2 linked regions of the Homo sapiens genome follow. The protein of the gene in region 1 purifies or fractionates together with the protein of each later gene. This does not show direct contact. Each region holds a gene or a part of one and is shown in the gene's direction. Other genes may lie near its edges.

Region 1 (4,068 bases):
TTGGGGTTGTGAGGAATCCACAAGTCCTAGAAAACCAAAGGTCAGAGTGGCATTTGTCCCCCCTCTGCCTCAAAAGGGCTGCTGAGAAACACGCTCATCTGCCAGTGAATACTTCTCCCCTGCAACCTGCTTTGATGAATTCAAGAGAATTGGTGGTAGCAGCAAGGAGCCATAGTGGGTTTTGTTGTTGTTATTTTCTTTCCAGTAGCACTTTGATGAATAAAAAATAAAATCCTTTGTTGTCTGAGTGCTTTATGTTGCAGTTTCTGGCTTTGCCTTTTACCATCGTTCTAGTCAAATCTATGGGTTTTTTTCTGACTGATTGAGCTGGGCTCTTTCACTGATTCCTTCTGGAATGTATATATGTATTACTACATCACTGCAAGATGTCAAAATGGAAAAGGACACGTACTTTCCTTTTCTGAGACCAGCCTGAAAAGCTGCAGTTGGGTGGAAGCAGAGCCCAACCGTTTCTTCCAGGCAAGGTGTACCAAAGGAGCAGAATTCTGGGGTGAGATCACTCAGAGGTCACTTGGCTTCTCAGAGGTCCCAGTGTGGCCTCTGTGGGTAGGTGCTTCTGTGGTAGCTGGGGTTCAGGCTGAGTCATTCCCAGCCCCAGCTGCCTGCTGCCCTTGACTGCCTATATAGCCCAGAGTGAGCAGAAATGGAAAACAGGCTTCTTCACTCAAACCTGATTAGTCTCAGGGACCCTCTCACCTCCTTAAAAAGGCAGGTGGAGCCTCGTGTCTGGAAAGGGAACATGGGAAATTTAGCTTCTTGGGCTTAGCTGCTTCGTGCCTTCCTAGAGACCTGGGAGAACTGGTTCAGGGAGCTCCAGAGCGTGTGGAAAGGGGAGAATTGGGCTGAGGCAGATAACCAGAGGTGCTGGTTGAAGGAAGCTAGAGGTGTGGCTCAGCAGGGTCCCAAGTCATTGTTTCTTAAATAGGCTCTGATGGGAATCTGGCTTTCTGGGCAGGAGAAAGGAAGGAAGGAAGGAGGGGAACCAGCTCTGGATTTGAGTCTGCTCTGGAGTTTAGAAATTGGCACATGATCCACAGGCCTCACTGTGGGACAGCCAAATCAACTTCTGGCTGCAGGGAGGGACTCTGGAGTAGGGAAGTCATCTAGGAAAGAGGCCTGTAGCATCTGGCCTGGGAGAGAGGGTAGACACATGCCCGCAGGAGTTTCCTCCTAGGCTTTACATTCTCAGGAGAGAGTTCAAGCAAATCTGTACTTGTATTTGTTGTTATTATTGTTATTCAGAGATAGCAAATTGAGGATCGGATGGTTTGGTTATTGAAGGTCAATTTTAAGTTTCTGTGATGGCGGTGAGGTATGTGAGTGTGCATGCAAGAGGGGACATACAGCTATGAATGGTGTTTTCTGAATGACCGTTCCAGCCCTAAGTCTAAACATATGACAAGAGGCCACACCCAGGCAGAAACAAGACCAGTGACTGTGGCTCCTTGCCTGGTTTTGCCTGATTTAGCCATCAGATTCTTGGCTGTTATAAGCAGAGTACATCCCATCTATCGAGAACAATACCTGAAGGAGCATTTTAAGGTTTATTGAATTGGCCGGGCGCAGTGGCTCACGCCTGCAATCCCAGCACTTTGGGAGGCCGAGGCGGTGGATAACCAGGTCGGGAGTTCAAGAACAGCCTGGCCAAGATGTTGAAATCCCGTCCCTACTAAAAATACAAAAATTAGCCGGGCATGGTGGTGGCCACCTGTAATCCCAGCTACTCGGGAGGCTGAGGCAGAAAATTGCTTGAACCCAGGAGGTGGAGGTTGCAGTGAGCTGAGATTGTGCCACTGCACTCTATCCTGGGTGACAGAGCAAGACTCCGTCTCAAAAAAAAAAAAGATGTATTGAATTAACTACATGCAAACTGTGGAGTGAGAACCACATATATTTCACCACATAAACATAATTATGTACAAGGTATAAATTATAGTTCCCCCCACTTTTTTTTTTTTTTTGAGACAGGGTCTCTGTCACCGAGGCTGGAGTACAGTGGCTTAATCTTGGCTCACTGCAAACTCCGCCTCCCAGGCTCAAGCGATCCTCCTGCCTCAGCCTCCTGAGTAGCTGGGACTACATTCACGCGCCACCATACCCAGCTAATTTTTTGTATTTTTTGTAGAGAAGGGGTTTCGCCATGTTGCCTAGACTGGTCTCAAACTCCTGAGCTCAAGCGATCTATTCACCTTGGCCTCCCAAAGTGCTGGGATTACAGGTGTAAGCCACCACGCCCGACCTAGTTCCCATATTAATTTCCCATTTTATCCTTATGAAGGAATTGGTGAAGCCCTTGGCCACGCACCATGCACGGTTTAGACCAGCATTTCCTATAGTATTCTGTTAGGAATATTGATCCTTTGGGATGCTTCATGAGGGAAAAAGTCTCCGTAGAAAAATTTCTTTGGGAAAGACTATATGCTCTATCCCATCACAATGCCCACTGACGTTTTAAAGACTCTGAGATATCCTGCAGTAAAGGAACCTTTTCAACTTTGTTTAATTCAGTGTTTCCCAAGCTTATTTAACTATAGAACCTTTTTTCATGTTACATCTGTTAACATCTTACAGAACCAATGTGTTTCATGGGAAATACTCTTTGGAAAACTTTAGCTTAGAAATTAGTATCTGTGCTGATCCAGTCTAGATTTATAGTCTTCCTAGTTCTTTTAAATGTCTTTTATAACCCACACCATTTTGCCCTATGCTAGTTAGTGTCTAATGGGATGTTGCTGATTTGTTTCAGGGTCTGAACTTGCTATTAGTAGGAAGCTCTTGGTGAACTTTGGTTAGGTGCACAGGCAAATACCAAGTGCCTTGTTTTTCTCATAATATTTCTAAGGGAGTTTTATTTCCCTTATGTCCCTCTACCAAATGCTGGTTTGATCCTTATTTTTTTTGGACAACTTTATTGAGATATAATTTATATATTGTATACACTAGCCATTTAGTACTTTACTGTTTTTTGAGACACAGTTTCACTCTGTCTCCTACAGCCTTGACCTTCCCCAGCTCAGGTGATCCTCCCACCTCAGCCTCCCAAGTAACTAGGACTACAGGTGTGCACCACCATGCCCAGCTAATTTTTGTTTTTTTCTGGTAGAGATGGGGTTTCGCCATGTTGCCCAGGTTGGTCTCAAATTCCTGGGCTCAAGAGATCCACCTGCCATGTCCTCCCAAAGTGCTAAGATTACAGGTGTGAGCCACTGCACCCAGCTAGTACTTTACTTTTAAACCAGTGTGGCTATCCCATGGCTGAGGTTTTTTTTTTTTTTCCGATAGTTTTTGGGGAACAGGTGGTTTTTGGTTATGTGGATAAGTTCTTTGGTAGTAATTTCTGAGATTTTGGTGCACCTGTCACCCAAACAGTGTACAATGTACCCAACATGTAGTCTTTTATCCCTCATCCTTCTCCCACCCTTCCCCTGTGAGTCCCCAGAGTCCATTATATCATTCTTATGCCTTTGTGTCCTCATAGCTTAGCTCCCACCATGGCCTAGTTCTATTTCTCATTTTTACCTTGGGCTGTGCTCTATGCTTTTATGTTCTGCCAAGCAGTAGAGAAGATAAAGATAATCCAAATCTTTTATCAGGAAGAATCCCATCTCAATTGAGATTTAAGGTGAAAAGTGGATTCCCCGATTAGGGGATGTTTCAGTACTTCCTCTGCAGTATCAATAAATGTTCTCACTGTTCACAACAGCTCAAGAAACATTCCTGCATAATTATTTTATACCCTCCTACTCCACAGGCTACATAAAGCATGGATGATAAACAGGCATTACCCTTCATGCCAATGCCCCTTGATCAGTAGTTGCTGCCTGGAGCATTGTGTTAAGATGGATGCTAAGGTGGACTCCTGGTTCCATATGAAAGACTGACATGGTTTGGTTGATTTTCCATGTCTGCTATGGTCTTCAGCAGGGGGAACAACAGTTCTAGTATTCTGGTTGCCATCCCAGCGGCCCTGAATCATCATAGTTATCTTGGGCAAAGAACACAGGAAAGGGGAACTCTTGGGGATGTTAGCCAGCCAAGCAATCTGTT
Region 2 (4,032 bases), on another chromosome or scaffold:
ATCTCTGGCCCACTAGATGCCAGCCACGCTTGCCCCTCTTCCCCAGATGTGACAACCAAAAATGTCTCCATGTTGCCAAATGTTCCCTAGGTGACAAGACCACCCCGAGTAGGAACCAGTGATCTATAGTCATATCTGTGGCCGGGCGCGGTGGCTCTTGCCTGTAATCCCAGCACTTTGGGAGGCGGAGGTGGGTGGATCACTTGAGGTCAGGAGTTCGAGACCAGCCTGGCCAACATGGTGAAACCCTGTCTCTACTACAAAATAACAAAAATTAGCCGGGCGTGGTGATGCGTGCTTGTAATCCCAGCTACTTGGGAGGCTGAGGCAGGAGAATTGCTTGAACTCGGGAGGCAGAGGTTGCAGTGAGCCCAGATCATACCACTGCACTCCAGCCTGGGCAACAGAGTAAGACTCTGTCTCCAAAAAAAAAAAAAAAAAAAAAAAAGTAATATCTGCTGGCTGTGTTCTTTCCTCAAGTTCATACTTTTCACTCATAAGTATTAGCTATACCAGGGTCAAGCTTGGCAGCTGTGCAGACAATCAGTTTTTGGTATTTGCCCATTTAAAATACAAGGTTTTCGAGGGCAGTTCTGTGACCCTTTCACAGTTTATATTTATTTTTCCTCTCTGGGCATCAGTTTCCTCCGCTGTAAAAAGAGGCCTGAGGAGTAGGATTTAATGAGCTTCTAAGTACTGTGTGCAAGTCTAAAGCGCGAGGATTCGACGTGGATGTAGACCAACTGATATTCTGAGCCAAGGAGTGGGGGCAATGTCTATTCCTGTTACACTGGGGGTCTGTCCAAGAGCTACTCCCCAATCACACCCGCCCCTAAAACTGTTTCTAACTGCTGAACACTGCCTCCTTGTCTTTACCACATCCAGCCTGCTTACTTCTTCCCGTGTCTCCCCCCACACAACTCACGCACCCACTCACCCTGGGACCATTTGAAACAGCAGCTCTGTCCTGGGATGACACACCACCCCATGGCCATGTGGAGTCTTACTGTGTTGCTGAGGCTGGTCTCAGGCTGGTCTCAAAGTTCTGGGATCAAGTGATCTCCTGCTTCAACCTTCCCAGTGGCTGCGATTATAGGCGTGAGCCGCTGCGCCCAGCTGGGAGGACTCTTTAAACTAGCTCTGTCCAGTAGAAATATGACCTGCAGGCCAGGCGCGGTGGCTCACGCCTGTAATGCCAGCACTTTGGGAGGCCGAGGCGGGCGAATCACGAGGTCAAGAGATCGAGACCATCCTGGCCAACATGGTGAAACCCCGTCTCTACTAAAAATACAAAAATTAGCCGGGTGTGGTGGCGCGCACCTATAGTCCCAGGTACTTGGGAGGCTGAGGCAGGAGACTCGCATGAACCTGGGAGGCAGACGATGCAGTGAGCTGAGATCACACCACTGCACTCCAACCTGGTGACAGTGAGATTCCGTCTCAAAAAAAAAGAAATGTAACCTACAAATGGAGCCAGGCGTGGCCTTTTCAATTTTCTAGCAGCCCTATTAAAATAAACAAGTGAAATTAATTTTAATTGCATATTTTATTTAACCCAGTGTATCCAGCACATTATCAGTTTGATGTGTGATAATCAAGGCTGGGTGCGGTGGCTCACACCTGTAATCCCAGCACTTTGGGAGGCCGAGGTGGGTGAATCCCTGAGGCCAGGAGTTTGAGACCAGCCTGGCCAACGTGGCGAAACCCCGTCTCTACTAAAAATACAAAAATTAGCCCGGCGTGGTGGTGTGAGCCTGTAATCCCAGCTACTCCGGAGGCTAAGGCAGGAGAATCACTTGAACCTGGGAGGCAGAGGTTGCAGTGAGCCAAGATTATGCCACTGCACTCTAGCCTGAGCAATAGAGAGAGACTCTATCGCTAAAAAAAAAAAAAAAAAAAAAAAAAAAGCATTAAATTAGATAGTGTATATTTTTTGTCATACTAAATTGTAGTCCGGTGCATGTTTTACATTTACATGTCAATTCAGACTAGCCACAAGTGGCTAACGATTTCAGTATTGGACAGTGAGGGTCTAAACAAATGTCTATTCCCAGAACCCTTCTTCCTGCCCCCCACCCCCATGTCCCCACCCTGCTCTTCTTTCCTCCCTCTGGTGATCCTGCATAGCCACCTGGCTCCTCTGTGCCTCTTGTCTTCCACTTCCTCTTGGCTGTGGCCTCTCTTGCATGTAGAATCCTTGTTGAGCTCTGGGGCTGCTTCCTAGGAAAAGGCTGTGCTTCCCCTGTACTCCCTGCCCCATCCTACCCCTCCTCTCCTCCCTTCTTTCTCTTCTTTGTTCCTGCTTGTTAGGAGCCAAGAGCTGCCCCTGACCAAGGCCGCAGGCTGACAGGGGCAAGCGAGAGGTTTTCCGAGGAGGGGAAGACAGCACTCCCGGGAGGGAAGCAAGACGTCTGAGAACTCAGCCTTCAGATGCCTTTCTAAGACCTTAGCTTTGCTAGTTCCTCAAAGAGCTGACATTTATTGAGAGCTGAGCCACAATTCTCTTCCCCTTCTTCTCTTCTGAACTTTCTGTGGATTCCTCTAGTTGGTTTTTTTGAGATGGAGTCTCACTTTGTCACCCAGGCTGGAGTGCCGTGGCGTGATCTCGGCTCACCGCAACCTCCGCCTCCCAGATTCAACCGATTCTCCTGCCTCAGCCTCCTGAGTAGCTGGGATTACAGGTGCATGCCACCATACCCGGCTAATTTTTTGTATTTTTAGTAGAGACGGGGTTTCATCATGTTGTTTGGCTAGGCTGGTCTCGAACTCCTGACCTCAGGTGATCCACCCACCTTGGCCTCCCAAAGTGCTGGGATTATAGGCTTGAGCCACCAGTGCCTGGCCTTATTTCTTCTATTTATAGCACAGAGAATGCTGTTCTCAGCTGAGTCTGACCCCAGTGGAGGGCAGGCCCAGGCAGTTTGCTGCAACTCACCTGCAGCAGTGCCTCAACTGTGAAGTTAGGGAGTGGATGCTGCCCACTGCATTCCTCCTCCAGGACATCCCGGGAGGCCTGCGCCCCTCCCCCTGCCTGTGTGTCTGCCCCTGCCCATGTGTTCTCTTTTGCTTCCAGGGGCGGGAGCAGGATGTGAGTAGAATCCTCCAAGCCCTACACGAGTGCCTTGCTGCCCTTCCCCGACCCCAGCTCCGGAGCGTCGTGGGCATCGGGGTGTCGGGCCAGATGCATGGAGTCGTGTTTTGGAAAACAGGCCAAGGTATGCTGGGCTCGGGGATGCTCTCAGGCTGGTAGCAGTCACTTCCAGAACTAGAGCAGTGCTGTGCGGGGCTTTCTGTGAAGGGTCGGGTTATCCTGCAGTGGGAATAGGGTCTTGTTTCTTGGAGTGGACGAATACGTGCTGCCTCCTGCGTGGGTGAGCATTCTGTACCAATGTTAGGTGAACAAAGGAACTGCCCACTCCCACATCATCAGCACGTTATCCACGAACAGGCAGAGGGAAGAGAGTGTTTTCTCGGATTCTCCTGAAGGATTCAGCAGAGTGCATTTTCCATAGCTTTCTCTTTACCATGTCAGTATCTCAGAACATTAGTGCAGACAACCGAGAGACTGGCTATAGCTGCAGGAGATGCCAGGACATGGAGGGCATGCTTTTGAATTGGGGCACATTTGTCGTTGTTTACATATTTGTGATTTTGAAAATTCCAGGGCATATCTTTTTTTTTTTTTTTTTTTAAGGTGGAGTTTCACTCTTGTTACCCAGGCTGGAGTGCAGTGGCGCAAACTCAGCTCACTGCAACCTCTGCCTCCCGAGTTCAAGTGGTCTTCCTGCCTCAGCCTCCAGAGTAGCTGGGACTACAGGTGCCTGCCACCACGCCCAGCTAATTTTTGTATTTTTAGTAGAGACGGGGTTTCACCATGTTGGCCAGGCTGGTCTCGAACTCCTGACCTCAAATGATCCACCGGCAGCCTCCCAAAGTGCTGGGATTACAGGTGTGAGCCACCATGCCCGGCCGGCATATCCTTTTTATGGGTTCAGTTGCTAAGCATTTCTAGTTGGTTGTCTTATGAAGATC

The links. The genes of interacting proteins can lie anywhere in the genome.
Region 2: the proteins of FAM219A (region 1) and SHPK purify together in Homo sapiens (affinity purification with mass spectrometry; 2 studies listed by BioGRID and IntAct, with this or other methods). This does not show direct contact.

Annotation. Positions count from the first base shown.
Region 1 is NC_000009.12:34,448,223-34,452,290, reverse strand, and holds part of FAM219A (protein FAM219A), read left to right. Parts: intron 1-4,068.
Region 2 is NC_000017.11:3,629,388-3,633,419, reverse strand, and holds part of SHPK (sedoheptulokinase), read left to right. Parts: intron 1-3,073; coding exon 3,074-3,215; intron 3,216-4,032. UniProt on the Homo sapiens protein: Acts as a modulator of macrophage activation through control of glucose metabolism.